Linked DNA regions of Homo sapiens: regions 1 and 2 are each linked to region 3. The links come from fine-mapping of genetic effects on gene expression. A gene starts in region 3. Each other region holds a variant in brackets. All regions are shown on one strand. Distances are from middle to middle. Region 1 has its middle 35 kb from the start of CD2BP2. Region 2 overlaps SEZ6L2 (seizure related 6 homolog like 2). Region 3 holds the start of CD2BP2 (CD2 cytoplasmic tail binding protein 2).

Region 1 (10,682 bases), 35 kb before region 3:
GCACTTTGGGAGGCCAAGGCGGGTGGATCACTTGATGTCAGGAGTTGGACACCAGCCTGGCCAAAATGGTGAAACCTCATCTCTACTAAAAATACAAAAATTAGCTGGGTGTGGTGGTGCGCACCTGTAATCTCAGCTCCACGGGAGACTGAGGCAGGAGAATCGCTTGAACCCAGGAGGTGGAGGTTGCAGCGAGCCAAGACTGCACCACTGCACTCCAGAGCCTGGGCAATAATAAGAGCGAAACTCCATCTCGGGGAGGGGTGGGGAAGATACCATAAAATACCTGCACCCGATTCTAGACCTTACTGAGGATTCCATCTACTTCTACCTTACTGTAACTTTTCAAATACTTTTCCCACTGAACTAAATCCCCCCCATAAACATGCAACACTTTCTAATGTATCCCATTGAAAAATGCAAAAACATATAAAAAGGAAAAACTCCATCAATCCCACATGTCCCTCCATCGAACAATCTGCCTTTACTTGCTGCAGCCAAACTAAAGTTGTCTAGACTCCCCTCTCCCATTTCTTCACTTCTTCTAGCTCCTTAACACACACTGGTCCAAATTCTGCCCCATCACTCTTGGCAAAATCCATTATGACCTCCAGGCTGCTAAATCCAAGATACAGTTCAGGCCTCAATCTGCTCATCCTTTCAGCAGCTTTCACAGGGCTGCTGAGTAGGGTTGAGCAGTTTTGCCCTGCACACAGGTGCCCTGCAGAGGAATGAGGTGGGCTGAATGAAACTCCTTTTTTAAAAATTCTTGGCTGGCATAGTGGCTCACGCCTGTAATCCCAGCACTTTGGGAGGCTGAGGCGGACGGATCACTTGAGGTCAGGAGTTCAAGATCAGCCTGGCCAATATGGCGAAACCCCATCTATTAAAAATACAAAAATTAGCTGGGCGTGGTGGCGGGCACCTGTAATCCCAGCTACTCCGGAGGCTGAGGCAAGAGAATCACTTGAACCCAGGAGGCGGAGGTTGCAGTGAGCCGAGACTGTGCCACTGCACTCCAGCCTGGGCAACAAGAGAGAAACTCCATCTCAAAAAAAAAAAATTGTTTATGCCAACTAATTGTACACCTAAATGCACCAAGTTCATGACTTTCTCCTTGCATTTATTTATTTATTTATTTATTTATTTTTTAATTAGGTCTCACTCTATGTTGCCCACGTTGTAGTGCAGTGTGTGATTACAGCTCACTGCAGCCTTGAACTCCTGGGCTCAAGAGATCCTCTGGTCTTAGCCTCCCCAGTAGCTAGAACTACAGGTATGGAGTGGCTCTCTGCCTTTATTTCTAACCCAAGCTACCTTACAACCTTAAAAAGAGATGCTGCTTCGCCGGGCACAGTTGCTCTCGCCTATACTCCCAGCACTTTGGGAGGCCAAGGCGGGCGGATCATGAGGTCAGGAGTTCGAGACCAGCCTGACCAACATGGTGAAACCCTGCCTCTACTAAAAATACACAAAAACTTAGCCAGGCCTGGTGGTGTGGTGCCTGTAGTCCCAGCTACTCAGGAGGCTGAGGCAGGAGAATCATTTGAACCCGGGAGACAGAGGTTGTAGTGAGCCGGAGGTTGTAGTGAAGCCGGAGGTTGTAGTGAGCCGAGATCACGCCGCTGCATTCCCACCTGGGCGACAGAACAAGACTCCAAAAAAAAAAAAAAAAAAAGAGAGACCCTACTTCAGCTCTCAATTGCATCGCTTATCTTCCCCTTTTGTCAGTTAAGTCCTGGAAGTACCCTAGAAACCTATCATTTGGCCTGGGAAATTGCCAAGATTAAAAGGAAATGTCTTACTCTATGACCTCTTTAACAGATGAAGGACAAAAAAGGCTGAAAATGTACAAAGATATGCATCCCTCCCCCACCAGTTAAATGCCAAACATAGGCCAGGCACAGTTGATCACACCTGTACTCCCAGCTGTTTGGGAGTCCGAGGTAAGCAGATTACCTGAGTTCAGGAGTTCGAGATCAGCCTGGCCAACATGGTGAAACCCAGTCTCTACTAAAAATACAAAAAAATTAGGCAGGCGTGGTGGTGCACATCTGTAATCCCAGCTACTCAGGAGGCTGAGGCAGGAGAATCGCTTACCCAGAGGCGGAGGTTGCAGTGAGCTGAGAGCTCGCCACTGCACTCCGGCCTGGAGAACAGAGTGAGACTCGGTCTCCAAAAAAAAAAAAAAAAAGGCCAAACATAGCACATTCCAACCAAGATTAAGAATCACTAAGAGTTACATTGCACCACTGCACACCAGCCTAGGTGACAGAGCGAGACTCCGTTTAAAAAAAAAAAAAAAAGAGTTACACACTGCAGAAATCTAAAGAATCTCAAAAGTAGACTGGGACTTTATAATCAAGGTAAAGGTGAAGTCATGTTTACCAATATAAGAAATGAATGGGCCAGGCGCAGTGGCTCACACCCGTAATCCCAGCACTTTGGGAGGCCGAGGCGGGAGGATCACAAGGTCAGGAGATCGAGACCATCCTGGCTAACACAGTGAAACCCCGTCTCTACTAAAACTACAAAAAAATTAGCCGGGCGTGGTGGCAGGCACCTGAAGTCCCAGCTACTCGGGAGGCTGAGGCAGGAGAATGGCGTGAGCGCGGGAGGTGGAGCATGCAGTGAGCTGAGATCGCGCCACTGCACTCCAACCTGGGTGACACAGCGAGACTCCGCCTCAAAAAAAAAAAAAAAAGAAATGTATGCAACCATTTTTTTCAACTCCTGAAAATAGTCAGATAATAACTGTAGTTATTCTGATAAAGTTCCTTTAGCCAACAGGTTGAAGCACATTCCCAGCGAATAACATGTTTATAAGATTTTCTAACAATTGCATATGTTAAATCTTCTCTTTAAAAATAATCCTGGCCAGGCGCGGTGGCTCACACCTGTAATCCCAGCACTTTAGGAGGCCGACGCAGGTGGATCACTTCAGGTCAAGAGTTCAAGATCAGCCTGACCAACATGGAGAAACCCTGTCTCTACTAAAACTACAAAATTAGCCAGGTGTGGTGGTGCATGCCTGCAATCCCAGCTACTCGGGAGGCTGAGGCAGGAGAATCACTTGAACCTGGGAGGTGGAGGTTGTGGTGAGCCGAGATGGCGCCATTGCACTCCAGCCTGGGCAACAAGAGCGAAACTTCATCTCAAAAACAGGAAAAAAATAAAATAAAATAAATAAAAATAAAAATAATCCTAGGCCAAGCTGGCTGCAGTAGCTCACACCTGTAATCCCAGCTACTCAAGAGGCTGAAACAGGAGGATCACTTGAGCCCAGGAGTTTGAGACCAGCCTGGGCAACACAGTCAGACTGTGTCTCTAAAGAAAAAAATCGTCATCATCCTAGGCCAGTCCAGACAACATAGCAAGACCTCCAACTCTAAAAGAAAATGAAATAAAAAATTTTAAAAGTCAATTTAATTAGAGGTCTCAAGTAATTCCAGAAGATATGGTCTCACAAATCAAATACTGAAAAAGGAAGACGCCTTTCAAGATAATCACACTATTATTTTAACTGCAGGAAAATGTATTAAATGAAGACAGCTTTTGCTAGCTGCTGAAACATACTAGTAAGAACAGGAAACGATGCTCCCACCATGCTCAGCAGTAGCCAGAAATTTACTGAGGTCTTTGTATTTAGCCTTAAGTATAAGACACCTAGGAAACTTCAAAATCATCACTTAAGCCACTTTAAACCCACAGTCTATACAAACCCTATCTTTTTCTTTTGTTACATTTTATACTAAACACACTTTAATCAGATTGACATAAGTGATTTAAAAGAAGTAACTTTTATAATTCCCTTTTACAAGAAAAAAAGAAACAATGTTTCCAGATACTAAGTTCCTTAAGAGACAGCAATCATTTATTATAGATTTACAGTACTACAATTTCAAATAGTACCAGAATCTTTTTTTTTTTTTCTTTGAGACAGTGGCACAATCACAGCTCACAGAAGCCTCGACCTCCTGGGCTAAAGCAATCCTCCCACCTCAGCCTCCCAAGTAGGTGGGACTAGAAACTCATGACACCATGTCCAGTTATTTTTTTTTTTTTTTTTTGAGACAGAGTCTTGCTCTGTCACCCAGGCTGGAGTGCAGTGGTGTGATCTTGGCTCACTGCAACCTCTGCCTCCTGGGTTCAAGCAATTCTCCTGCCTCAGCCCCCAAATAGCTGGGATTACAGGCATGCACTACCATGCCCAGCTAATTTTTGTATTTTCAGTAGAGACGGAGTTTCACCAGGTTGGTC[A/G]GGCTGGTCTCGAATTCCTGATCTCGGTGATCTGACAGCCTCAGCCTCCCAAAGTGCTGGGATTACAGGTGTAAGTCACCATGCCCAGCCAATTTTTTTATTTTTTGTAGAAACGAGGTCTCACTATGTTACCCAGGCTGGTCTCCAACTCCTGGGCTCAAGTGATCCACCCACCTCCCTGTCTTGGTCTCCCAAAGCACCACCATGCCTGGCCCAAAATCTTGTAATTGCTTAATACTGTATATACATTCTTATAATGATATGATATTTCCCATCTTTGTTTAGAAGATGCGTGTGGTTCTTCTCCACCCCCTCAAGTACTTAAAACTATCACATTGGCAGAGTACAACTAAATGTTTCTGGCATCCTCCCTCCTCCCATTAAAAAAAAAATTAAAATAAAAATATGTATATACACACCCATACACACTACACCAGAGGGAAAAAAGCAACTCATCGTTCAACTGGTGTTCTTATAAGAATCAGTTCTTAAATTCCAACTGTGTAGTAAAAGGTAAGCAAGCTATAAGCTACCTTTTAACCTACCCTTTCTCTATATACATTCCATTTACATTGTACTTGCCCTCCAATCTATGCAAACAGTCACAAAGATTAGATTATGTTTGCTGGCTTATCATTTCAACTAGTAACAAATTCTTAAGGTGTGAATACAAGATATGGAGAAAAAATGATGATGCAGAGCTATGCTGAAATTTCTTATCGTTCAACTTGAAATAGGTTTACAGCCTAATGGGACTATACTAGAAAGTGTAGAAAGAGGGCAGGCACGGTGGCTCACACCTGTAATCCCAGCACTTTGGGAGACAGAGGTGAATGGATCACAAGGTCAGGAGTTCAAGACCAGCCTGGCCAACAAGGTGAAACCCCGCCTCTACTAAAAATACAAAAAAAAAATTAGCTGGGTGCGGTGGCACATGCCTGTAATCCCATCTACTCAGGAGGCTGAGGCAGGATAATCGCTTGAACCCGGGTGGCGGAGGTTGCAGTGAGCTGAGATCGCACCATTGCACTCCAGCCTGGGGGACAGAGCGAGACTCCGTCTCAAAAAAAAAAAAAAAAAGGAAAAAAGAAAAAAAGAAAATGTAGAAAGAGAGCCACTCCACTGCAGAGCAATTAATTCTATCTCCACTAATATTTTTCTAAATATTCACTGGAACAGTTTTAAAAATAATTTCCTGAACTTTAACCCTCCCAACGTCTTCAAAAGGCAAAAATTACCCCCTCAGAGGGACACAGCTGGTAGTGCCAATACAGAAGATCTTTGTCTTCCCATTCTTAGTCCATAGCTTTTTTCATGACACCAGCCTCTCCTAAGATAAATATCTGTGAAGGATCAACTTTTTAAAATACACACATTCTAGCTGGGCACGGTGGCTCACATCTGTAATCCCAGAACTTTGGGAGGCTGAGGCGGACGTATCACCTGAGGTCAGGAGTTTGAGACCAGCCTGGTCAACACGGTGAAACCCGTCTCTACTAAAAATACAAAAATTAGCCAGGCGTGGTGGCATGCACCTGTAATCCCAGCTACATGGGAGGCTGAGGCAGGAGAATCGCTTGAACCCGGGAGGTGGAGATTGCAGTGAGCCAAGATGGTGCCAACTGCACTCCAGCCTGGGCAACAGAGCAAGACGCCGTCTCAAAAAAAAAAAAAAAAAATACATTCTTAAAAATAAAGACACTTAGAGAGGAATCTAAAACACACTGGTTCTATTTTTATGCTAAGACAGCAGGTGGATTTTTTTTTTTTTTTGGAAAAAGAAAAGGGAACAAATTTCACATAGGAGAAGAGTTTTTGAAATCTTTGCACAACAGGGTGGCCATAGTAAATAATGATGTATTTATTTGCAAAGAGAAGACACAGATAACAATAGCAATAATAATAATGTATTTCAAACAATTAAGAGTAAATTTCAAATGCCTCACCACAAAATATAAGTAAGCAAAGTAAGGCGATAGTATGTTAATTAGCATGATTTAATCATACTACATTACACACATATATATAAACATTACGTTGTACCCTATGTGTACAATTATGATTTCTGAATTAATATTAGAGTGGGGAGAACAATGATTAATTTTTACTTCTTCAGTAAGATTACAATGAAAATGTAGAGAGCACTAGCATTATAGTAACTATACGATAGGCCACTTTAAATAAAAGGCATCTTTTACAAAATTTTTAGTCAATAAATTGATTACCACATACTTACGACCTATTTGCTATTAAGTGTAATTTATAATTCTAGTATTTTCAAAAAAGGAACATATTAAAATCCTATCAATATTTCAAATAATGACAGAATTAATCATTTTTAATAGAATCCTTACTCAGGTCCTTCAAAAACAATATAAACTATGACTTAAGGTAGATTCCTTTAAATCTGACTAATGAATAAATGTTAAATCTCAAATTTCATAGTCCCAGTGCTGGAAAACCTATATTTTTATTTTTCTTCACGTTTATACAAAGAACGTACAGACAGGCAAGAAATGTAATCAACCTTTTTAGGAAAGAATCCCAGGATTTGCTTTCTTTTCAATTAAATATATATGAATTCTGGGGGATACTGGTGATCATCTCTGGATCTTTTTACTCATCTAATGAGAAAAGAGTCTCATTATACAAAGAGGATAGTCAAAAAGCCTAATGATTTCCTCACATAAGTAGATTTTTCTGTCTGGCAAATCTGAAGAAGTCAACATAGAATCTGTCATTAATGCATTGAATCTGAACTTCCACTATTCAAATCAAATTAGGACCTGGAAATAAAGTGTTAACACTTCAGACAAGAAATTCCAGGGTTTGTATCATCAGGAATATAAACCAGGGACACTCTCAAGAGGCTGAAGAGCAAGAGTCATGCACTGCTTCAGAGAATTAAATACTCCAAGATGAAAGTTAAAATTTCAAACACACATATCACACATACACATCTTTTAACATCAGGTTGAAATGCTAAAGGGAACAGAGTAAAGGTATGTTTTCAATTAATAAATTTAAATGAGAGAAAACTTTAAATTCAAAGAGCTTCAGTAAAAAAAAAAAAAATATTAGCAATGTTATCAAATGTGGACGAAAAGCTAATATATGTCACTATGTAATCCAAGACATATTCATTAGTGGCGCCTTTTTTCTGGGCTATTAATATATTAGATGCCATCCAAAAACAAATATCTAGTAAATATTAAGTTTAACGACTTCTTAAAAACCTGTAGGTTCCCAAAGACATATACATGTATGTGCAGTGAGGCCACTGCTAAGCCTCTAACAATATTCTTGTAGACTACTAAAGTTCTCTATGATGATAAAAAGCGTGATAAAAAAAATCTAGTGTCTCCCCTTAATAAACAAAGAACGAGCATAACTTAGGAAGTTCGGTAACAAAAACAATCTATAATTCTGGTACCAGAAATCCCTCTGAGGCTGGGCGAGGTGGCTTACACCTGTAATCCCAGCACTTTGGGAAGCCAAGGCAGGGGGGATCACCTGAGGTCCGAAGATGAAGAACATCCTGGCTAACAGGGTGAAACCCTGTCTCTACTAAAAATACAAAAAATTAGCCAGGCGAGTGGCACATGCCTGTAATCCCAGCTACTCAGGAGGCCAAGGCAGGAGAATCACTTGAACCCAGGAGGTAGAGGTTGCGTGAGCCTAGATCGTGCCCTTGCACTCCAGCCTGGGCAACAAGAGCAAAACTCCATCTCAAAAAAAAAAAAAAAAAGCAACAAGTCCCTCTGAAAAAAGTTTTAAATAATAAACAAAAAAGTCTATAACAGGTTTTTAAATAACTATAAAGTCCTACACATATTATATGAATGCCAACATAATAATATGAATATGAATATCAACAGGGTATCCAAATCCTTTTTTGAAAAGGTCTGAAAATTAATATGAAAGAAGTAATTCAGTATGTTCAGAAATCTGTTGATTCTAGGCCAGGTATGGTAGCTCACACCTGTTATCCCAGCACTTTGGGATTTACAAAATGGCATTTCCTCCTCACCTAAGGTCAGGAGTTCAAGACCAGCCTGGCCAAGATGGTGAAACCCCATCTCTACTAAAAACTACAAAAATTAGCCAGGCGTGGTGGCAGTCGCCTGTAATCCCAGCTACTCAGGAGGCTGAGGTAGGAGAATCACTTGAACCCGGGCGGCAGAGTTTGCAGTGAGCCAAGATCTCACCACTGCACTCCAGCCTGGGTGACAAATAAAATAAAATAAAGAAATCTGTTGATTCTGGAATATTTGCGTTTCATTCCCCAATCAGCAGGCATGCAATTGGCAAGAAGTGTGTTTCCCCAGGCATTCTAATGGGATGCCAGAAGGCTCAACCCAGTGCTTAAATTTTTAGTGATTACATTGCTTAAATAATGTAGACAGATACAATAGACTCAAAATAAATCAATGTGTAAAAAGACTTTAAATATGTGCACAAGGTATTTTTCAAGATGGATAAAACATATGAATCTTAAATTACCATATTCTTTTATTTTTTATTTTTTCTGAGACAGAGGTTTTCCTCTTGCTGCCCAGGCTGGAGTGCAACAGCATCATCTCCACTCACTGCAACCTCCGCCTCCCAAGTTCAAGCAATTCTCCTGCCTCAGCCTCCTGAATAGCTGGGACTACAGGCGTGTGCCACCATGCCCAGCTAATTTTTGTATATTTTTTAGTCGAGATGGGGTTTCACCATGTTGGCCAGGATGGTCTTGATCCCTTGACCTCATGATCCGCCCACCTCGGCCTCCCAAAGTGCTGAGATTACAGGTATGAGCCACTGCGCGTGGCCAAATTACCGTATTCTTTCTTCTGTAGAAAGATCTGGCCACTCCAGTCCATTACGATACTGTCCTTTTGAGCCTGCTCAATCAGTTTGTTTAAGCCCTGCCTCAGGCCAACAAGGCTGCCATAAGAGGAATGCTTTCCCCAAAAAAACATCCTACAAGAACAGTGTTGCAATCTCTGGAGTTAACACTTAATATAAAAACACAAACTTGCAGGATCTCATTTTCATGTATTTACTTGAGGAAAGACACAAATATAGAGTGGATGCTATTTATTGATGCACTTAGTAGGAAAGAAGGGGATAGCAAAAGTAACAATTTTACCAGATCCATGCACATATGCAGGTTGTATTTTACTGGAGATGGCACACATAAAAATTCCAGATAGTGGTAAGGATATGAAAAAAAGTGGCAGGAATGGGTGTGATAGTGAAAAAGTCACTGCATATCTGTACCTTGACTGAGGTCATGGTTACACAGGTGTATACATTTGTCAAAATTTACTGAATTTAAGACCTATACAGGCCGGGCGTGGTGGCTCACGCCTGTAATCCCAGCACTTTGGGAGGCCGAGGCGGATGGGTCACCTGAGGTCAGGAGTTCCAGACCAGCCTGGCCAACATGGTGAAACCCCATCTCTACTAAAAGTGCAAAAACTAGCCAGGCGTGGTGGCAGGCATCTGTAATCACAGCTACTTGGGGCGCTGAGGCAAGAGAATCACTTGAACCCGGGAGGCGGAGGTTGCGGTGAGTCGTGATCGCACCATTGCACTCCAGTCTGGGGGATAAGAGCGAGACTTCATCTCAAAAGAAAAAAAGAAAAAAAGAAAAAACACCACCACCTATACATACATAAATTTTATCTCAAAGAAGCACCACAATAGAATTCAAAAACGAATTCAATTTAAAAAGGAAAAGTACACTCGATTAATACAAGATGGAAAAGAATAACATTATAAAACCAAGTATCTCTGCATGAGCGAACTCCACAAGAATTTAGTAAGTTATACTCTACATTAAAAAAAAAACAAAAAACAAAAACTCAGAATAAGGGAGCATTTCCTATACATATGAAACCACAAAATTTCTGTACTCTTTACTGTTAGGCCTCTATACAAGGGGAAGTATGTTTCATTTTATAGTTCCAAAAATAAAATGGGCTCTGAAAAACTTCAAGATAGTCAAAGACAGGTAACCAAAATGATGACAATGTGAAAAGATTAACAAACAACAGCTCCTCTAAATCATTAAGGGTGGTCCAATGAAAGGAGCCTCAGGGATTTGTTTTAGGCGATTAGGATAAGGAACAAGAGCCAGGTAACAAAGGCAGAAAATCCTAAAGAATTTAACAATTCAATGTTCCCAACAGACACCATGGACCACACTCCATTTTATATGACACTTAAATGACATTCCATACATGTGTCTAACATGAAGATTGAGCAGATAAAAGGTATCACTTTAGTAATCATCCTCAATCAACACCAGATAACAAATGAGGGGCTTTTGCTTATGGAAATTCTCACATATTGAGCTGAACACTTTTACCTTAATTAATTAATTAATTTATTTATTTATTATTATTTTTTTTTTTTTTTTGAGACGGAGTCTC
Region 2 (10,682 bases), 470 kb before region 3:
TGCATTCAGTAACAAGCCCAGCAGTTATTCAGCTAAGAAAACAGCCTCTGAAGGGACAGGGATTTACCCAAGGCTTGGGTGGATGAAGTCTGGATGTGCAGCCTTCCTTTCTGAACGGCCTTGCTGGGATCCCCAGTTCAGGGGGCAACGTGGACTGAAGGACATGCCTGCGACAAGGAAGGCTCACCTTTGCAGGCCGGCTCTGTGTCGTTCCAGTGGGGTTCTGTGGGATCCACACATTCGATGGCATTGGGGGGCCCAGGGGGCTCCAGGGCATATCCTGGGAGGCACGAGAAGGTTGCCAGTGCCCCTGGGCGATACTCAGGGTCCGTGGTAGTGACATTTCCATGTGCCAGGAAGGGGGCGAAGCAGCGATCCTCCTCAAAGGCTGGGAAGGAGTCAGTCATAACAATTAAGCATTAGGACAGGCCTCAAGGGATCTTAAATTGGGGATGTGGGCTGAATTGGGGTGTTCTTTGGCCACTCACTGGGCTTTTTTTTTTTTTTAAACAGTCTTGTGCTGTCGCCCAGGCTGGAGTGCAGTGGTACAACCTTGGCTCACTGCAGCCTCTGACTTCCAGGTTCAAGCAATTCTCATGCCTCAGCCTCCCAGGTAGCTGGGATTGCAGGCGTGCACCACCATGCCCAGCTATTTTTTTTTTTTTTGAGATGGAATTTCACACTTGTTGCCCAGGCTGGAGTGCAATGGCACAATCTTGGCTCACCGCAACCTCCGCCTCCTGGGTTCAAGCGATTCTCCTGCCTCCTGAGTAGCTGGGATTATAGGCATGTGCTACTACGCCTGGCTAATTTTTTGTATTTTTAGTAGAGACGGGGTTTCTCCAGGTTGATCAGGCTGGTCTCAAACTCCCGACCTCAGGTGATCTGCCTGCCTCGGCCTCCCAAAGTGCTGGGATTACAGGCATGAGCCACCGTGCCTGGCCAATTTTTGTATTCTTAGTAGAGACAGGGGTTTCACCATGTCGGCTAGGCTGGTCTTGAACTCCTGGCCTCGAGTGATCTGCCTGCCTCAGCCTCCCAAAATGCTGGGATTACAGACATGAGTCACTGCGCCCAGCCTGGGTTTTTTTTTAATTTTTTTAGAGACAGGGTCTCACTCTGTTGCCCAGGCTGGAGTGCAGTGGTGTGATCACAGCTCATTGCAGCCTAGATCTTCTAGGCTCAAGTGATCCTCCCACCTCAGCCTCTCTGGTAGCTGGGACTACAAGCATGCACACCCCACCCAGCAGCTCATTTTCTGATTTTTTTTTTTTTTCTGTAGAGATGGAGTTTCACCATGTTACTTAGGCTGGTCTCGAACTCCTGACCTCAGGTGATCCGCTGGCCTCGGCCTCCCAAAGTGCTGGGATTACAGGTATGAGCCATTGCCCTGGCGTTGGTGGGTTTTTAAAAACTGAATGCCACTGGGTTTAGCATTCACTCTCCAGACTGTCAAAAAAAGTTCTAACACTCCTCATTCACATATTTATATTGCCTCCCTGGCCTCTGGAGGGAAGCCACTGAGCTAGCCAAATCCCAGCCACCATTCTACAGAGCGGAGGTCCATAGACCAAAAAGCCACTTGCTCAAGGTCACACAAAAGACAATGGCAAAAGCAGGTCTCAAACCCAGATGGTTTGATTCCCAGCCACAGATACTTGGCTCTGGAAACAGCAGAGATAGCGGGTAAGGGGAGGGGTGCCTTCAGAGAACTGGCTGGTGTAGGTGTATTGTCTCCTCAGAAATAACAGTTGGATTCTGATCATCCATGCTGTTGCTGAAACCCAAAATTTCAGCTAATGCAAAAACTACTCAGTTTTTACTTCAAGTCAGCAAAAGTGAACATTTGTAGAGCATTTGAGTTTCTGCCCACCTGATCGGATCTTAGCTGCAAAACTCCCTGTAAGTTAAGATTTAGGTGCCTATGATACCAATGAGGAATTCTTTTTTTTTTTTTTTTTTTTTTTTGGGATGGAGTTTCGCTCTTGTTGCCCAGGCTGGAGTGCAATGGTGTGATCTCGGCTCACTGCAACCTCTGCCTCCCAGGTTCAAGTGATTCTCCTGCCTCAGCCTCCCGAGTAGCTGGGATTACAGGCACCCACAACCACCCCCGGCTAATTTTTGTATTTTTTTAGTAGAGATGGGGTTTTACCATGTTGGCCAGGCTGGTCTCGAACACCTGACCTCAGGTGATCCACCCGCCTCAGCCTCCCAAAGTGCTGGGATTATAGGCGTGAGCCACCATACCCGGCCTTTTTTTTTTTTTTTTGAGATTTTTAATTTTATTTTAATATTTTATTTTTTTATTTTTTGAGACTGAGTCTCGCTCTGTCGCCCAGGCTGGAGTGCAGTGGCATGATCTCACTTCACTGCAAACTCGGCTTCCCAGGTTCAAGCCATTCTCATGTCTCAGCCTCCTGAGTAGCTGGGATTACAGGCACGTACTACCACACCTGGCTAATTTCTGTGTTTTTAGTAGAAATGGGGCTTTGCCATGTTGCCTAGGCTGGTTTCAAACTCCTGGGCTCAAGTGATCCACCTGCCTCAGCCTCCCAAAATGCGGAGATTACAGGCATGAGCCACTGTGCCCGGGTTATTTTATTTATTTTTAAAAATGAGGCCAGATGCAGTGGCTCACACCTGTAATCCCCCCACTTTGGGAGGCTGAGGCAGGTGAATCACCTGAGGTCAGGAGTTTGAGACCAGCCTGACCACCATGGTGAAACTCCGTCTCTACTAAAAACACAAAAATTAGCTGGGCGTGGTGGTACATGCCTGTAATCCCAGCTACTCAGAAGGCTGAGGCAGGAGAACCACTTGAACCCGGAAGGCGGAGGTTGCAGTGAGCCGAGATTGCGCCATTGCACTCCAGCCTGGGTGACAAGAGCGAAACTCCATCTCAAAAAAAAAAAAAAAAGGAAAAAAATGAGACAGGGCCTTGCTCTGTCACCTAGGCTGGAGCGTGCAATGGTGGGATCACAACTCACAGCAGCCTTGACCTCCTGAGCTCAAGCGATCCTCCTGCCTCAGCCTCCCAAGCAGCTGGGACCACAAGTGTGCACCACCACACCTGGCTAATTTTTTGTTTTGTTTTGTTTTGTAGAGACAAAGGTCTTGCTATGTTGCCCAGGCTGGTCTCCAACTCCCAGGCTCAAGTGATCCTCCCATCTTAACCTCCCAAAGTGCTGGGATTACAGGCGTTAGCCATTGTGCCTGGCCACAGTGAAGAATCTTAAACTCATAGAATAGCAGTGGCCTACAACTCTGGAGTCAGGACTCACAACTTGCTATTTTCGGTAAAAGATCTGTGCTGTTTGCACTTTAACACTCCCAGAATCTATCCCGCAATTCATTTTTGCAGATCCACTGTTCTATTTCACTGTTACTTAACCTGCAAGGTATCATGTCCAAATCCTACCCATCCATCACAGCCGAGTGCCAATTCCATTTCTCCCATGATTCATATCAAACACTAGACCCTCCTATCTCTAAGCATTTCATCTTTTTGGTCTCTCTCTTGCTACTGTTTATACAACTCCTCTGTTTCAGCCACAATGAAATTCTGTTTCCCAGACATACCAGGCATTTCCCTACTTGCTGTTTCTCAAAGTTCCTCTCTTTCCTTTTCTTTTCTTTTCTTCTTTTTTTTTGACAGGGTCTTGCTCTGTTGCCCAGGCTGGAGCACAGTGGTGCAATCATAGCTCACTGCAACCTCTGGGGTTCAAGTGGGGTTCAAGTGATCCTCCCACCTCAACCTTCCATGTAGCTGGGACTAGAGGTGTGTGCCACCACACCTGGATAATTATTACTTTTTTTTAATTTGTAGACACAGGATCTCACTATGTTGCTCAGACTGGTTCTCAAACTCCTGGCCTCAAACAATCATCCCACCTTGGCCTCCCAAAGTACTGGGATTAGAGACACGAGTCACCACAACTGGCCTCAATCTTCCTCTTTTAAAATATCCTCTGTTGGCTGGGCAGGGTGGCTCACGCCTGTAATCCTAGCACTTTGAGAGGCCGAGGTGGGAGGATCACTTCAGCTCAGTAGTTGGAGACCAGCCTGGGCAACATAGTGAGATGCTGTCTCTACAAAAAATGTAAAAATTACCCAGGCATGGTGCCGAACGCTTGTGGTCCCAGCTACTAGGGAGGCTGAGGCAGGAGGATCACTTGAGCCCAGGAGGTTGAGGTTGCAGTGAACCATGATCGGGCCACCGCACTACGGCCTGGGCGACAAAGCAAGACCTATTTCAATAATAATAATAATAATAATAAAATACCCTCTATCCTTTAAGGCCAAGGTGAAATGCCTCTTCCTCCATGATCACTTCCTTGTTTCTACCCCTTCACATTCATTCCTCTTCTTCTGGTAACGGCATCCCAATTTTAATTTTGGGACGCAGGCCTTCCCCACTCCCAGTCCACTAGGTTAAGTTGGAGCCCACCAGGGAAGGCCACGTGAGGCAGATTAGCCAATCCCAATACTCCCTTCTCCTAGCTCAGTGATTGGCTCAGGCTAAGGCCAACCAGGATCTTAGTCAGGTCAATGAACGCCTCTCCTGGCATTTTTGCTGAGCTCTCAGGAAATATATGAGTGTTCTCTCTGATGAGGTTACTCGGTTGGTGGTATGGGCTGGAGGAGGTGGCTTACACCTGTAATCCTGGCACTTTGGGAGTCCCACATGGGCGAATCACTTGAGCCCAGGAGTTCAAGACCAGCCTGGGCAACATGGTGAAACCCCGTCTCTACTAAAAACCCAAAAATTAGCTGGGCGTGGTGATGCATGCCTGTAATCCCAGCTACTCGGGAGGCTAAGGAATGAGAATCGCTTGAACCTGGAGGAGGGGGGCTGCAGTGAGCTGAGATCGCGCCACTGCACTCCAGCCTGGGCGACAGAGAGGAACTCTGTCTCAAAATAAATAAATAAATAAAAATAAATAAAAACTAAAAACTGTCAGGCGCAGTGGCTCACGCCTGTAATCCCAACACTTTGGGAGGCGGAGGCGGGCAGATCACCTGAGTTCGGGAGTTCCAGACCAGCCTGACCAACGTGGAGAAACCCCATTTTTACTAAAAATACAAAATTAGCTGGGCATGGTGGCGCATGCCTGTAATCCCAGCTACTCGGGAGGCTGAGGCAGGAAAATCGCTTGAACCCGGGAGGCAGAGGTTGCGGTGAGCCGAGATCATGACATTGCACCCCAGCCTGGGCAACAAGAGCAAAACTCCGTCTCAAAATAAATAAAGGCCGGGCGCGGTGGCTCACTCCTGTAATCCCAGCACTTTGGGCGGCCGAGGCAGGCGGATCACAAGGTCAGGAGATCGAGTCCATCTTGGCTAACACGGTGAAACCCCGTCTCTACTAAAAATACAAAAAAATTAGTCGGGCGCGGTGGCGGGTGCCTGTAGCCCCAGCTACTCGGGAGGCTGAGGCAGGAGAATGGCGTGAACCCGGAAGGCGGAGCTTGCAGTGAGCCAAGATGGCGCCACTGCATTCCAGCCTGGGTGACAGAGCGAGACTCGTCTCAAAAAATAAATAAATAAATAAATAAAATAAAAATTAAGTTGGTGGTATGTAAGTCGGCAGCTATGTCCATCACACAGGGAAAGTGCCTAAGGATGAAGCCAGCACAGAGGAAAGAACCGAGATACTGAGATAACTGGTCTCTGGGCTATGTACCTGGATCCAGACATTCATGAAGCTTAAACAGAGAAGGCTGCCTGGGGGAAGGAGAAGGGGTCCCTAGAAGAGATCCTTGCAGTTTTGGGGCAGGGAAGCGAGTCACGTTTCAAGGAACCCAGCACGGAGATGAACAGGCATAGAGTTTGTGCTTCCGACTATGCTTGGTGTCAGGAAGAGGGGAAGGTGTGGCGGTTGGGGTCCTGTGGGGGAGTGGGTCACTTACCTTCAAATCGAAGGCTTAACAGCAGGGGATTGGCAGGTGTCTCTGACAGCAGCTCCACGTAGAGGGACTGGGCGTCACTGATGAGACCCCGCTCGGGGACATCGTCCATGTCCGAATCATAGATCACGGGGGATAGGGGGCTGCCCCCTGAGCGCACCATCAGCCTGGGATGGACAGAAACGTGACCAGGAGCTCAATCTCCCTCACAAGCTGCCTCACCCCTTGCCTGCTTTCCTAACTTATTTTTATAGCTGTTATCATCACAC[A/G]TAACTATATGCCACGCACTCTTCTAAGCCCTTACACATTCTATCTCATTTAATTTTCACAAGAACTCTTGAGTCAGACACTATTATTATCCTTTATTTTATAGATGAGGATATTAGGGCATAGAAAGATCAAGTAACCTGTCCAAGGTCACAGAGCAAGTAGTGGCAGGGCTGAGATACCAAGTTGCTAGGTAAAGGATGATAATGATGATGAAGATAGCAGATGCTTGACCAGGCATGGTGGCTCAGCTCACACCTGTCATCCCAGCACTTTGGGAAGCCAAGACGGGTGGATCACCTGAAGTCAAGGAGTTCAAGACCAGGCTGGCCAACATGGTAAAACCCCATGTTTACTAAAAATACAAAAATTAGCCAGGCATGGTGGTGCATGCCTATAATCCCAGCTACTCAGGAGGCTGAGGCAGGAGAATTGCTTGCATCTGGGAGGTGGAGGTTGCAGTGAGCTGAATCCGTGCCACTGCACTCCAGCCTGGGTGACAGAGCGAAAGTCTGTCTCCAAAAATAAATAAATAGATAAATAAGGCCAGGTGCAGTGGTTCATGCCTGTAATCCTAGCACTTTGGGAGGCTGAGGTGGGTGGATCACGAGGTCAGGAGATCGAGACCATCCTGGCTAACACGGTGAAACCCCAACTCTACTAAAAAAAAAAGTACAAAAAATTAGCCGGACGTGGTGGCACACGCTTGTAGTCCCAGCTACTCGGGAGGCTAAGGCAGGAGAATAGCTTGAGCCTGGGAGACAGAGGTTGTAGTGAGCCGAGATCGCACCACTGCACTCCAGCCTGGGCGACAGGGTGAGACTCCATCTTAAAAAAAAAAAAAAAAGAGGATAGCAGACACTTTTATAGTGCTTATTGTCCCAGGTGCCATTCTAAGGACTTTATATAATTTCAGCACTTATCCTCACAGAAACCTGAAGAGGGAAGTATTGTTATCTCCATTCTACAGATGAGGAAACTGAGGCACAAAGAAGTTAAGTGATTTGTCTAAGGTTTCACAGCTACACTTCCTAAGAAAGTCTTAGGACTGGCTGGGTGTGGTGGCTCACGCCTATAATTCCAGCACTTTGGGAGGCCAAGGTGGGCAGATCACCTGAGGTTGGGAGTTTGAGACCAGCCTGACCAACATGGAGAAACTCCATCTCTACTAAAAATGCAAAATTAGCTGGGCATGGTGGTGCATGCCTGTAATCCCAACTAATCAGGAGGCTGAGGCAGGAGAATCACTTGAACCCGGGAGGCAGAGGTTGCGGTAAGCCAAGACTGCGGCACTGCACTCCAGCCTGGGCAACAAGAGTGAAACTCTGTCTCAAAAAAAGAAAAAAAAAAAAAAAAAGGCTTAGGACTAAGCTGTGATGCATATCTCAACCAGGATCCACCCCAGCTGTGTCCAAGTCCCCACTTAGCCTCCCTACTTCCCTGAGGTGGGGACTTCTTTTTTTTTTTTTGAGACGGAGTCTCATTCTGTCTCCCAGGATGGAGTGCAGTGGTGCGATCTTGGCTCACTGCAAGCTCTGCCTCCCGGGTTCACGCCATTCTCCTGCCTCAGCCTCCCGAGTAGCTGGGACTACAGGTGCCCACCACCATGCCCGGCTAATTTTTTTTTTTTTTTTTTGTATTTTTAGTAGAGATGGGGTTTCACCGTGTTAGCCAGGATGGACTCGATCTCCTGACCTTGTGATCCGCCTGCTTCGGCCTCCCAAAGTACTGGGATTACAGGCATGAGCCACCATGCCCGGCCAAGGTGGGGACTTCTGACCCAAGACCCAGACCCTTACCGGTCATTGTCCTCATCCAGCGAGACCCTTTCAAAGTGCAGGTGCAGCCGGCGCCCCTCAGCTGCTTCAATGACCCAACGGCAGGTGAGGTTGGGCCCTACGGCTCCCCCAGGCTCTGGGGACACGATGCGGCCCAGGGTGGCATTGTGGATGGTGCCACCACAGGATGCTGTGGGCAGAGGAGGGGTACGTTAAGGCCAGCCTGAGGTGAACTGTCCTTCTCCTCGGGGCCTCGGCCCGTTTTCAGAACTGTTGCATTCACACATTTGGCTGGGACCCGGCCCAGGGCTGGCCTCTGTCCCATGGAGTCACTCCAGAGGATGGGACCTTCTCCAGGCATGAGCCAGGAAAGAAACCAGCCCCGGTACGGGAGAACCCCAGGATTGACACCTCCTAGGATGGAGACACCACTAAAATGAAGACTCTCCAACTGCGGATACTCTAGGATGGGGAGTTACAAGGATCCCTAAAATTCAAAGCCTCAGCTGGGAAATCTTCAGGACAGGACTTTCAGAGTGAAGACACCACGGGATGGGAATCCCAGTAAGAGGCTCTCTAGGATAGAAGCCCTCTGGACATGAACCCTAAAAATGGCTTCCTCTAGGATGAGGACGCTACCCCAGAAGGGACCTCCAGAATGGTGACTCCCAAAATAAAATCTCCAGTGGGACACCCCGAGATGGAGACCACCCAAGGATGGAGAAACCCCAAGGAGAGAGACCCTCCGCACAAAGAGCTCTGGCTGCAGACCCCAGGATGGGGACTCCTCAGGGTAAACACCCCTTCAGAATGGGTTTTCCCCAAAGGTGGACACCTGGACACCCCCGAGATAGGACCCTCCCAATGGGGTTCCCAGAACAGATGCCCCACCCACTGTGGCAGGAGACTCACCCATGCAGCTGGGGGTTTCACCGTTCCAGGATGGCCGGGTGCCATTGAGGCAGATGAGGGTCTCCTCTCCCTGCAGCTGGTAGCCCGAATCACAGTGAAAGGTGGCAGTGCCCCCAGGGTGCAGGTCCGTCACACTCACGTCCCCATGGGCCGGCCGGGGAGGGAAGCCACAGCTCAGGAGGTAGGCTGCACCAGACAGACAGCGGGTAGCAGGGCTCACTTTCCCATGCCACCCTCTCATACTGATCCCCCAGCACTTCCCCCCTCTCCTTTCAGGCCAACCTTCCAGGGGCACACACTGGCTCCATACTGGCGTACATACCGAGAAATAAGAGCTCCTCACACAGGCACCTTGCCTCGCGAACAGGAAACTCCAACACCCCTTATCTCCCCCACTCATTGTAATTCACCCTCGTTGGCCCCCATTTTATAGATGAGGTATCTGAGGTTCAAACAAGTTATTCTGGACCCCGCTACTCATTTGTTGTGTGACTTCAGGCAAATCAATGAACTACTCTGAACTTCATCCAGCTGTAATAACAGTATTTGCAGAGCTTGTTCAGCTCCCAAAGTGAGTCCACACAGAGATTTTGAGGTCAGCAGACAAAGATTATGTGACCTGGCTAGGCATGCTGGCTCACGCCTGTAATCCCAGCACTTTTGGAGGCCGAGGCAGGTGGATCACGAAGTCAGGAGTTCGAGACCAGCCTGGCCAACATGGTAAAACCCCGTCTCTAAAAAATACGAAAATTAGCCAGGCGTGGTGGTGGGTGCCTGTAATCCCAGCTACTTGGTAGGCTGAGGCAGGAGAATCACTTGAACCCAGGAGGCAGAGGTTGCAGTGAGCCGAGATCGTCCCATTGCACTCCAGCCTGGGCGACAAGAGCAAAACTCTGTCTCAAAAAAAAAAAGATTATGTGACCTGTTTTGCAGGTGTGAACACTGAGGCTCCAAGTTATTAAATGTCTCTTTTGATTTTTCTTCCCTCCACACACACAGCCTTTCTTCCACCAAGGTGCCCTGTGGTATACCCTCAGCTCCTCAGCTTCCATCCAGAAGAACCACTTGAAACTTCTTTTTTTTTTTTTTTTTTTTTTTTTTTTTTTGAGATAGGGTCTCACTGTGTTGCCCAGGCTGGAGTGCAGTGGTGTGATCATAGCTCACTGGAACCTTGAACTCCTGGCCTCAAGCAATCCTCCTGACCCAGCCTCCCAAGTAGCTGGGACTACAGGTTTGTGCCACCATGCCCCGCTAATTTTTAAATTTTTTGTAGAGATGACATCTCAGTATGTTGCCCAGGCTGGTCTTGAACTCCTGGCCTCAAGCAAACATGAAACTTGTTGAGGAAATTTGACTATTTTGTCTTTTTGTTTTTGTTTTTGTTTTTGAGGAGAAGTCTCACTCTGTTGCCCAGGCTGGAGTGCATTGGCGCAATCTCGGCTCACTGCAACCTCCGTCTCCCGGGTTCAAGCGGTTCTCCTGCCTCAGCCTCCCAAGTAGCTGGGATTACAGGTGTGTGCGACCATGCCTAGCTAATTTTTGTATTTTTAGTAGAGATGGGATTTTACCATGTTGGCCAGGGTGGTCTCGAACTCCTGATCTCTTCAGACCTCCTGACTTCACTTTCACTGGGGGATTCATTTACAGGCCACTGAGTATTAAGATCTTTAAAGACAAAATAGTCTTTAAAGGCACAGTGGCTCACGCCTGTAATCCTGGCACTTTGGGAGGCTGAGGCGGGCGGATCACCTGAGGTCAGGAAAAAGACCCAGGCCTTGTCCTCAGGAGTCCATTGTCTACTGAGATGAACATAAGAACA
Region 3 (10,682 bases):
GTGAGAAGGGGCTACTCATGGGTCAGGTTTCTTTCATGGTAGGAAAAAAAGGTTTTAAAATTAGACTGTGGTGATGGTTGCACAACCCTGTGAATATACAAAAAACCACTGAAGGGTACTGAAGCGTGGTGGCAGGTGCCTGTAGCCCCAGCTACTCGGGAGACTGAGGCAGGACAATCCCTTGAACCCAGGAGGCAGAGGTTGCAGTGAGCTGAGATCGTGCCATTTGCACTCCAGCCCGGCAACAAGAGCGAAACTCCATCTCAAAAAAAAAAAAAAAAAAACTTACTCAAACAAAAAGTTTATATCTATCTATCTATCTATATGTATCTCTTACAAACTGTATACATATAAACTGCATATATACACACACAACTAAAAAAGAAAAGCACACTGGGCACAGTAGCCCACACCTGTAACCCCAGCACTTTGGGAGGCTGATCTGGGAGGATCGGTTGAGTGCAGGAGTTTGAGACTAGCCTGGGCAACATAGCAAGACCCTGCCACTACAAAAAAAAGTTTCTTAATTAGCCAGGTGAAGTGGTGCACTCCTGTAGACCCAGCTACTTAGGAGGCTGAGGTGGGAGGATCACTTGAACCCAGGAGTTCAAGGCTGCATTGAGCTATGATCACACCACTGTACTCCAGTGTAGAGAGATGTTGTCACCCCTACTGGGTGACAGTAACACCCTGTCTCTAAAAACAAAACAAACAAAAAGCCAAGGAGTGCTGTTTCAGATGTGCTATAAAGGCCACCCTAGCAAGAGGCAGCCACATTTATAAGTGCTGACAGGGACCTGAAATAGCAATGTGGTCACAGGAAGGGAGAACTTAGTGAGATCGGGTGGTTCATGAGGTGTCCCCTGGATGCATGAGTAGTTGTTTCCTATTGGGGCTGTTAACAAATTACCACAAACTGAGAGGTTGAAAACCACACCAATTTATTATCTTACAGTTCTAGAGGTCAGGAGTCCAAAATGGTTTTCACCAGGCTGAAGTCTTGTCAGTGCGGCTTTGTTTCTCCACGGAGGCTCTGGGGCAGAATCCAATGCCTTTTCCAGCTCCTCCAGGGGCCACCTCATCGCCTGGCCCCAGGCCTTCTTGCCATCTTCACAGCCAGAAGCTTCCTTGCTTCATGCGCAGACCCTCGTGACTCCCCTTCCCTTATAAGGGCCCCCATGATTACTCAGGGCCCACCTCAACCATCCACGGTCATCTCCCCACCACGAAATCCTGAACTGAAGCACAGGCGCCGGGTCCCTTTTGCCACGCAAGGTAACACTTTCCCACGTCCTGGGGTTCCAAACCTGGACATCTCTGGGGGCTGTTATTCCACCCACCGTCATCAGTGAGGCGCCTTCAGGAGGGGCTGTGAGGTCACGTGAGGTCGGCTTCAGAAGGGCTAGGTTTGAGTGCCTGGAGGACACTGGCAGGAGGCGCCCCTGGGCTCCATCCATTTACCACGCACGCACTCAGCACCCCTGAGACCATCCCTGGGGCCTACAGGAGAACCCTGTACCTCAGCAGCCCTGAAACCTGCTTTCCACTTCCGGACCTTTCTGAAATCAAGACGCATCTTTAGATCAATGGCATCTTACTGTGTCACCGGCAGGCCTCTTCTTTCTTAGTGACGTTTAAAGGAAGGTATCTTACCCCTGATGGCTTCTTGGAGTGAATGAAATTCCGGTGTGAGCAGGCACTAGAAGGGGCCTCACAAGAGTGTCAGGTGACCCCACTCCGCCCTGGCCCCCAAGTCTTTCCTAGTTGCTCATCTGGCCCTTTCTGACCTGGGATCCCAAGTGTCCTGCAGCTCCAGTGCCCAGACCCCCATAACTAACAGACCCCACTAAAGCCACACACATGCTCAGCTCTCCAACCACGGTGGGGTCCAGGAGCCACCCCTCCCGCTAGGTGTGCCTAAACCATGGGGATCTGACTCAGGGGCTCTCTCTCGGCCTGGCTGCAAGCTGAAAACACCTGGGGGCTTCCAAAATGCCCAATGCCTGGGCCACAACCTAGACCAGCTCAATCTGAATCTCCAAAGAGATATTACAGCTCCCCAGGAGACTCCAAGGGGCAGCCAGAGTGCAAAACCGGAAGAAACCATCTAACGTGGGGCAAGGGAGGCGTAAGGCAATGCTGGTGGGGCGTGGAGGTGGAGGGTGCCAGGCCCAGGCTATAGAATTACATCTGTCTATTTCCCATGCCCCTGCCACCAGACTCTGAATTCCTGGAAGGGGACCAACCCAGCTACCTCAGTTTCCTCAAGGCACTAGCCCTGTGCCAGGCACATAGTGGGGTCCAGAGAATGTAGGCCGCAGGGCCTCCAAGGCCAGGCAGCAAAGGCTTTGTGCCAAGAAAGGTCTGGGAAAGGAGCCCACTGGGTCTGGGCCAGCCCTTTGATTCCTGTGATCTCCAGTGAGTCACTGCCCCTCTCTGTGCCAGTACAATGCACACTTGGCCCACACTTGGCCACTGAGTTTGCACTTCACTGAAGGGCTGTGGGAACGACGGCAAGGATAGAGGAAAGCCAGATTAGGGAAGACACTGGCTCTCAGAACCTTAGGGATCTCGGTCTTGGGCCACTCATCCCACTTCTGCCCAGCATCTAAGGAGCTTGAGAGGGTGAAGCGAGAGTAAGAGGGTTCCATGCTCACCCCCAACAGGGTCCCAATGTCTTCTCGATGCCCTGGTCCTTCTGGGCCTAAAACATCCACTTCTGGGGCTCTGTCCTCTGGTGGCTACAAGGATAAAGAATCTGAGGTCCTGAAAGCCAAAGACCTAAGAGGAATCGAACAAGAAACCTGGGAGAGGAGCACAGAGCAGCGCAGTTGGGGGTGTTTACACGGCAAGCAGAGTCCAGGCAGGGAGGCCACAGGATACCTGACAGGCACCTCCAAGAAGGATCTTCATGGGAGTACTCAGGGACCAAGACAAGTCCAAAGGGACTGTGGAGAAGGCCCCTGGCTTCTGGCCATCAGCACAGCCAAGGCCCCAGTACACAACTAAAGGCTTTTATTGGGAAAGGGAAATTGACTGAAAAATGGCCTCCAATTTCCTCGCTGCCTGAGACACTTGGTGCCTCCTCCACAAAGTCCAGGAAAGAAGGGCCCACCAAACTGGGCCCCCAGCAGGCTCAGGTGTAGAGGTCAAAGTCAATGCGTTTGGAGTTGTAGAACTGACCACCAGGGGGGTCCAGCTTCCGGCAATAAACACCGTCCGGGAAGTAGCCTTCACTCACCCAGGTCTGCAAGGAGAGGGCAGAGCTGGGGAACAACTGACAGGAGTGGGGGAAGCAGGGACAAGGCAGGAGGAGGGAGAAAGCAGCTCACCTGCATCTGGGCGCTGGTGAAGGGCCCATACAGCTCGGCATCCCCCGTGTTCTCCCACTTATATTCCCACATCACATCCACCAGACCATCTCCCCGCGACTCTGCTTCTAAAATAACAGGCAAAGCCATTTGGCCTCCAGTGTCTCACTTCCTACCCACTGCCCCCTCCTCTGTCCTCCAAGCTCACCTCCTCTCTGGGTAGGGGTTGGGGTCTCCAGTTCCTCCTCCGCCAACTCCTCAGCGAACATGTCCAGGGAGGGTGGGGGTGTGGGATTGTGGGGTCCTAGGGTCTGACACCCCAAACCCTTCAGACGCATAGCCAACCGTTCCCTTGTTTCCTGGTACACACCAAGGTTGCCCCGGGCCACCATCTGGTCGGCCAACCCGGAGAGCCGGTCCAGGCGCTGAGGGGAACTGGGTTGCCCAGGCCCCTTTCTCCCTTTGCCTCCTCCTCGGGCCCCCAGACGCCTCAGTGCCCCAGCCACTGTCTCTCTAGGCAATAGGAGCTCCAAAAGTCCCTCCAAGAGGGCTTGGGCACTCATTGAGGTCTGGCCCAAGCTGTCCTCCTCCTCCGAGTCTGAGGCCTGGCGCTGGCCAGGTGGCCGCTCCCGGATCTTCACCTGTAATGGGAAGATGGAGTGATTTCCCACCAACTGCCACGGGAGCAGGCCCAGCATCTGCCACTCCCAGGCCCCAGCCACGCCAGCCCCTGGGCCGCACCCAGTCAATGTTGTCCAGCCAGCTGTCTCGGATCTGAGCATCCCGGTTCAGGAAGTAGTTGCCATCGGCATCAAAGTGGCCTTCCTCCATCTCCTCCTGCAGGTTAAAGGGTGTGATCCGAACACCCCCCTCGCTGGGGAGTGTGGCTGCCTCCTGACCTGCACCAAAGACACAGGTGCCCTTTTCCAGGCATGGAAAAAAGAGACCGGAGCCTCCCTCGCTCCACACCACCAGAGGCCCCTACTTGTTTTTCCAGCAGAGTGTATTCTTGGGTACAGCTTACCTTCTACATCCTCTGAGGCCAAGATGTCATATTTGCTGGACCCCCCATCATCATCATCCTCCTCCTCATCGCTATCCAAAGAGTGTTTGCCTTTAAAGCGGCTCCCAGGACCCCCTGACCCAGCCACAGGGTCCACCAGCTGTGAGCAGGAGCCAGAAAGTTGAGAAATGCAGGTTACTGGCTACCTCCCCAAATACTTCCGGATCTGGACCCAAATATTCCCCAAATATTTCAGGATCTCGACTACTTCCCCAAATATTTCAGGAGCCACACTAAAGACGCTCCCAACCCATTCCTCAGAGAACCTGAAAAAACTAGGCTTTTCTCTGCCTGCCCGCCCCGCCCCTCTCCCGCCAGCTTTCTTCCTCTTCAGGCTTCTAGCTCCTCTTTCCCCCACACAAAGCAGTCTGGCCCCCTCACCTTCTTCTTGGGGACAATGATTTCATCCTCATCCTCCTCATCTCCCACGCCTTGGAAGGTCACTTTCCTCTTTGGCATGACGGGGCAAAGAGGTGTTTCTCAAGCTGAGGAAAGGATGCAGAGGAAGGGAACCGGGTGAGGAGGGGACTCGCCAACAGACGCAGCACAGCAAACATTTTTCCTGGTCTGTGACAGGTACAGTTTGGGAGCGGAGGGAGCACAAAAGCAGGGGCCGAAAGGAAGCTGGCAGCCAGGAGGCCTCCAGGACTTGGGTCTAGCATCCGCGAGTTAAACGGGGCGGGGACGGAGGAGCGGACCCTCTGGATCCCCCGACCCTGGCTGAAAGGAGACAGGCTTCACCACGTGACCGCCCCCAACTCCAGCCCCCGCAGTCTGCGCGCCACCGGCTCCACGGGCTGACCCCCGCTCTCTACCCTGGCTCTCTCGGAGCTCGCCGGGCCCCGGCAGACCCAGGACCTGGCGCTCTCGCCACCCCGTTCCTCCCTGCTCCGAACTCCCAATTCCGTGTGGTGAGCCCCAACTGTCCCGGGCTGTGTACAACTTAGAGGGCCACGGGGATTCGGGCGGTCCCACCCTCGCGCACTCACCTGGGAATCCGCGGAAGGCGAGGTGGAAAAAAGAAGAGATGCTTGCGCCAGGGCTACATCCGGGGCACCCGGCCGCCATCACCCGGAAGAGGACTGCGGAAGGCGCCCGGGAAGCCCGGAAGTGGCTTCACTCGGGTTAGGGAACTAACTGGAAGAGCGGGCGGAAGTATGCGATAAGCGAGCGAAGACGCCTCCACCCTCTCTCCCGCCAGAAGTGACGTCAGTCACGTGGGAGGACAATGGTGAGAAGAGGGAACCTAAGAATTCCTGGACTCTGACTGGGCGTGAGAAATGGCCGGAAGTAGCTTCGAGTCCGTCATTCAAGCAGTAGAGGCTCTGGAGAAAAACTGGAGCGCATCTGCTTAAAGGGCCGCCCAGGGTCAGGATGGAGGGGCAAAGTCCGAGCAGGGTCAGTGGGTTGCTGCTCCGTTTTCCTGTCCTGGGTTCAAGTCACCCTTCCCCCAGGGCTAAGGGCTCAGCGCCCCTACCGTCTCGTTAGAAATCCTGCCTTCCCATTCCTATGGTCCAGTGGTCAGCCCTCCTAGCCTGAGAGGTGCAGCCTTGCCTCTCCGAGGGGAAGCCTGACTCTCCCGATGGCCAGCCTGGGGCCCCTGGACGGCTCTCCGGGCACTTTCTGAACACACCTCCCTTTAGGACCCAGGGGAAATAATTTGTCCCACGCCCATACCCTGGGCGAGTTCCTGGTTTCTGAGGTGGGAGAGCCATCACTGGAGAGGTGGCATTGGCGCCAGTACTCAGGCCAGAAGCCCCTTGTGCCCTGCTCTCAGGTAGGCCTGGAAAAGGGCAACAGTGCCTCTCTGCAGCATGAAGCCCCCCTGAGCAAACAGGGCCTAGCAACTCCTGCCCAGGTAGCGGAATGTGGCCCAAGCAGAAGGGGGAATTGGGGAGGTAGCGGGGATCAGCCCCTGTGCTGGGACCCCTAGCTCTTGACACTCGGAGCCTGCATCCCCCTAAGCCAAGACTGTGCGCAGGCAGCACGTGCTGAAGCCAGACGAGGACAGCATGAGAGTTCCCCTACTCTTCCCCCAGGCAACTAGATGGGCCACTTCTCTCTCCCTAGGGGTTTCCTCCCATATTGGATCACGATGAAAACTGCACAGAAAGTCCGTGCTCAGTTTCTTCCATGGTTACAGAACACAGGCCCCAGACCAGGAAGGCATTCTGCTAAAGAAGGGGACCCGAAACCTCAGCTACCAGCGCCGATGGTTCATCCTCCGAGGAAACCTCCTCTTCTACCTAGAACACTAGACCGACCATGCACCCCTGAGCCTCATCCTGTTAGAGAACTGCCAGGTGGAACCACACCTTAAGGCTGCAGAACCCTATGCCTTTACCATCCTGACCCCTGGGGTGGAGGGCACAGGTGGGCGGGCCTACAAGCTGGCTGCAGAAACCCAGGAAGAGCTGGAGACTTGGCTGTGGGCACTGGCTGGCGCGAGCTGGAGGCGGCTGGCTGGGCTGCTGTCCCCCCTCCCCCCCCACCAAAACCCAATACTGGGAGCTGTGCCAGGCAACTGGCCAAGAACCCATCTCATCCCCAGAGGACAGTGGCTTTCTAGCCACTGTGAGTACCCCCTCCAGCTTCCAGGAGTTGCATGAGCACTTTGGGAAGGAGATCCGGGTGCTGCACGTGGTACATAGAGAGCTCCAGGCAGCCAGTGACAATGGAGACAGCAGATCCCAGGCAAAGATGGAGCAGGAGCTCAACCAGTGTCTGATGAGTGACTGAGAGATGGACCCAAAGCTAAGAGGTACCTACTTGCCAAGACAGCAGACTGCTTCAACAGAGACCCAGGTCCTGGCTCTGTCCCTCCCTCCCTCGTCCTTACCCCATCCCCCCCTCATCAAATAACAAGGCAGAAAACAGGCCCAGGTACAACAGCAGGTTCTTTTCCAATTCCTCAAAGCGCTGCATGGGGTGGGGGCAGAGACAGAAGAGAATGTAAACATTGGGTTCCACCCCCTGGAGCTCAAGGGAAGACCCTTACCCAGATAGGGACTAACTGGAGGGGTGGAAGGGAACAAGGTGAAAGGTATGGGTCCTGGTGAGACAAAAGCAGGGGGGCCTGAGAACACAGAGCAAGGTGGGTTTGGAGGGAGCACAGCAGGGTGCAGGAAGGGAGATGGGGGACATTTCCTATTCCAGTGCATGTCCCCTTAAATAAACTGGGTACAGGAGCATTATGGAAGGAGAACCAAAGGACAGAAGACAAAGCGAGCACCCCCACCCCAGGCCAACGCCATCCTCTGTACACAATTACAACACAGGTCCAGAATGAGAGCCCTGGCCAGGAAGTGGGGGAGACAGGGAGGGCTGAAGACAGGGAAAAGGAAGCCAGCTCCACCTCATGGTAAGGGGAGCTATGGAGTGTAAGAATCTGAAACTGCTGACTCCCATCACCAGGAGTCACCCCTGGGATGACAACGGGCCATTCAGGACAGCACCTAGGAGGGGACCCAGAGGGAACTGGGGCAGGAGCGACAGAGACCCCAGCTGAGCCTCATGGGAGATGAGAGGCTCCAGACTCATTTGCAGCTGCCCATCTGTCCTGCCCGTGTAGGGATCAGCAGCTGGCGAGGAGATGGGGAACCAAGCCACTTTCCCCAGCAAGGGACAGCCTGACAAGGTGCTAGGGGGTGGCACCTTGGGCCAGGCCTGTTCTTGGCTGAGGGAAAGAGGGGGGCCATGCAGTCCAGCCCCAGGGCAGAGGTCAGAAGTAAGCGTCCTGCCGGGCCTCGGCTGAGGGCCTGTCCCCACCATCATGGGGGCCTGGGGGCCCATCTGCCTTTCGACGCAGCGAAAGCTTCCGGCCTTGAGCCTTCTTCTCCTGCTTCTGCCGCTCCTTCTCCTGCTTCTCTCGCTCCTTTTCCTGCTTCTCTCGCTCTTTCTCCTGCTTCTGCCGCTCCTTCTCCCGCTCCTTCTCCTGTTTCTGCCGCTCCTTCTCCTGTTTCTGCCGCTCCTTCTCCTGCTTCCGGGTCTCCTTGCTGGAACCCAAGGGGGTGCTATTGCCAGTGGGTGAGGGAAGGGATGGATGCAGTCCCTCAGCAGTGACCACAGGCCCTGGGGCAGGCCCAGCACTGGCTCTGCGGACGGGGGGCGGCGGGGACGGGGCCCCTCCAGCTGCCCGGGAGCCTCGGCTCTTGAGGCCAGGGAGGCTGAGGAGGCTGGAGGAGGGGCCCAGGGGTGGCTGTTGCCGCCGGCGCTCCTCGTGGATGGCCCGGGACCCATGCAGTCGCCGTGAGGGCCGATACTGCAGCTCCCCCCGCGTTTCCCGCCACTTCTTGAGCTGGGCTGCATTCTCCCGCTCAATCAGTGCTTCTGTCACCGGCAGATTGGTCACCTGCACAGAGAGGAAATGCGTACCAGAATGGAGCTGAGGGTGGGAGCGGGCTGAGGCAGGCAGGGGCTGCGTTGAGGGCACAGGCCTACCTCATGCACCAGGAAGTCTTCCTGCATGCACTGCTGGGGCAGGTTACGCAGCTGCTCCATGGTCTCATACATGCCTTGGCAGGAGCGCAGCTTCTCCACTGAGCCCAGCGTGTGGCGCAGCAGGACCAGGGCCACCCGGAAGATGATCTTAACGCCTGCAGGGGTGGAGAGTAGAGAGCATGGGGTGGTCAGACCCAAGATCTCAGCCTGTCCTGATCAGGATAGACTCACAGCCCCCATCCCCATCTACTGCCAATCTCAGATGAGGAAACTGAGGCCCTGTGAAAGTACATGAGCTGCTATCAGTCTCAGGATCTTGGCAGGGAGAGCAGGCTCTGGGTTGGTGGCAGAACTAAAATCAGGCCTGTTTCTCCAGCCCCCAGCTGCTTATGGTGAAACCTCCACCCAACAAGTACCTTTTGTCCATGGACCACCAGAAATATGACAGAACCCCTGGTAGCCACCACAGAAACCCCAGCCCCTCATGGCCTGGAGGGCCACAGAAGTACCTTCACAGAAAAACATGTCCCAGACACGCAGCACCGACGCCCAGGGCAGGGTGCGGGCGAAGATGCACATGAACCACTCCGTCATGTAGAGCACAGGGTCAATGCGCTGCCGCCGCAGGTGGCGATGCGCCAGCGGGGAGGCCCGGCGCAGGAGTGCAAAAAAGATCTCCCCGTCCAGCTGAATGGCCTCCTGCAGGTGGGACAAGCCATGAGAAGAGGGCCAAGTCAGCTGTGCCCCCATCAGGGGAGAACTGGCCGGCCCTGTGGGCAGAAGCCGGGAAGGCCAGGGTGGGGCAAGGCAAGGACCTGCCTGCAGCCTGGAGGAAACGCCACAGCCCCGGATGCACCCAGCCTCCAGACACTCACCAGCCCTGCACTGTAGTAACCTGGGAGGTACTTGTCGCAGATCTGCACCAGGCACCAAAAGGCTTGCTGAGAAGAGCAAGAACAAGGAGGAGGGGTGGGGCCTGAGAAGCAGGGAGCAGGGAGCTCCCCCATCACCACTGTAGGGTGAGATCCCCCCTGCCCCTCCCGGCCCAGGACCAGGGCGCTGACCTCCGCAGGCATGTGCATGAGCAGGACCGCAGCCACGGGGGCCTGGGCCTGGCAGTAACCCTCGTCAGGCCGGTAGATGGTGTAGGCCTTCAGGATTCGGTACAGGTCCTGTTGCCTGTGGGGGTTGGGGAAGACTGTGAGGGCAGTCACGGGCTGAGAGCTCTGTCCCCAAACCCAGTTCCAGATTCGTCCCAGAGTTTATCACCAGGCTCCTCCATCCACCTGCCCAGTCCTGCTGAGCGAGCTTCAGCTAAAGGCTCAGCCCACAGCAGAGCACTCCAGGCCCCGGGGCTCCGCCTTTGGCTACATACTCCACATGCTCCTGGCCATCCCAGCACAGGCTGCACCCTCGCCCTCCTTCCTCAGCCACATCCCAGAAACCTTCCAGGTCATTTTCTCCAGGAAGCTTTCCACAGCTGCAGCATCAGCCCTCCTCTAGCACTAAATGTCTTTGTCACCCCAAAGCAGTAGCTCCCCAGGGCAGGGCCTGCCTTATCGGTCTCACTGGATTTCATGGTTCTTGGGGAAGGCTTGGAAGCCAGCTGTGCCTCAGCCCTTTCTCCTGTCTCTGCATCCAAAAGAATAAAATCTGTACCCTAGATCTGCTCTTCTTGAGGGTGCCCCACTGCCGTGTCCAGGACTTCTATTCACTCAGCCCCACATCAGAAAAGAGCCCCTTACTCCAAGCCTAAGCAGCGCTGCACCCTGAATTCCATTCCTGCCTGCTCCTCTCCACCTCCACAGCCATTCGCAGCTCAGACCTCCATTTCTTGCCCATAAAAAATGACCTCCCAGATCCTCTCC

The links. PIP is the estimated chance that this variant, and not a neighbour inherited with it, causes the effect.
Region 1: its variant is the best candidate, but not a certain one, in a credible set for the expression of CD2BP2 in whole blood (INTERVAL, PIP 0.68).
Region 2: its variant is the best candidate, but not a certain one, in a credible set for the expression of CD2BP2 in whole blood (TOPMed, PIP 0.63).

Annotation. Positions count from the first base shown.
Region 1 is chr16:30,315,232-30,325,913 of GRCh38, forward strand. It overlaps the pseudogene SMG1P5. Among named protein-coding and RNA genes, the nearest start is that of CD2BP2, 35 kb to the right of the region's middle. RefSeq lists a silencer at 9,819-9,868. The variant A/G (reference allele first, on the strand shown) is at 4,261.
Region 2 is chr16:29,879,677-29,890,358 of GRCh38, forward strand. It overlaps SEZ6L2 (seizure related 6 homolog like 2), which reads right to left. Exons shown (of 18, transcript NM_001243332.2): 6 at 8,864-9,049; 7 at 7,973-8,141; 8 at 5,910-6,073; 9 at 188-388. Among named protein-coding and RNA genes, the nearest start is that of SEZ6L2, 15 kb to the right of the region's middle. The variant A/G (reference allele first, on the strand shown) is at 6,176.
Region 3 is chr16:30,349,849-30,360,530 of GRCh38, forward strand. It overlaps CD2BP2 (CD2 cytoplasmic tail binding protein 2), which reads right to left and starts at 5,460. Exons shown (of 7, transcript NM_006110.3): 1 at 5,364-5,460; 2 at 4,756-4,859; 3 at 4,336-4,474; 4 at 4,053-4,210; 5 at 3,520-3,952; 6 at 3,333-3,439; 7 at 925-3,247. The coding sequence starts at 4,833. The coding sequence ends at 3,137. It overlaps TBC1D10B (TBC1 domain family member 10B), which reads right to left. Exons shown (of 9, transcript NM_015527.4): 5 at 9,879-9,993; 6 at 9,690-9,755; 7 at 9,324-9,513; 8 at 8,815-8,969; 9 at 7,254-8,725. The coding sequence ends at 8,096. It overlaps CD2BP2-DT (CD2BP2 divergent transcript), which reads left to right and starts at 5,586. Exons shown (of 2, transcript NR_184233.1): 1 at 5,586-5,772; 2 at 6,445-10,479. RefSeq lists enhancers at 4,474-5,425, 4,510-5,709, 5,400-5,694, 5,426-6,377, 5,432-5,491 and 1 more.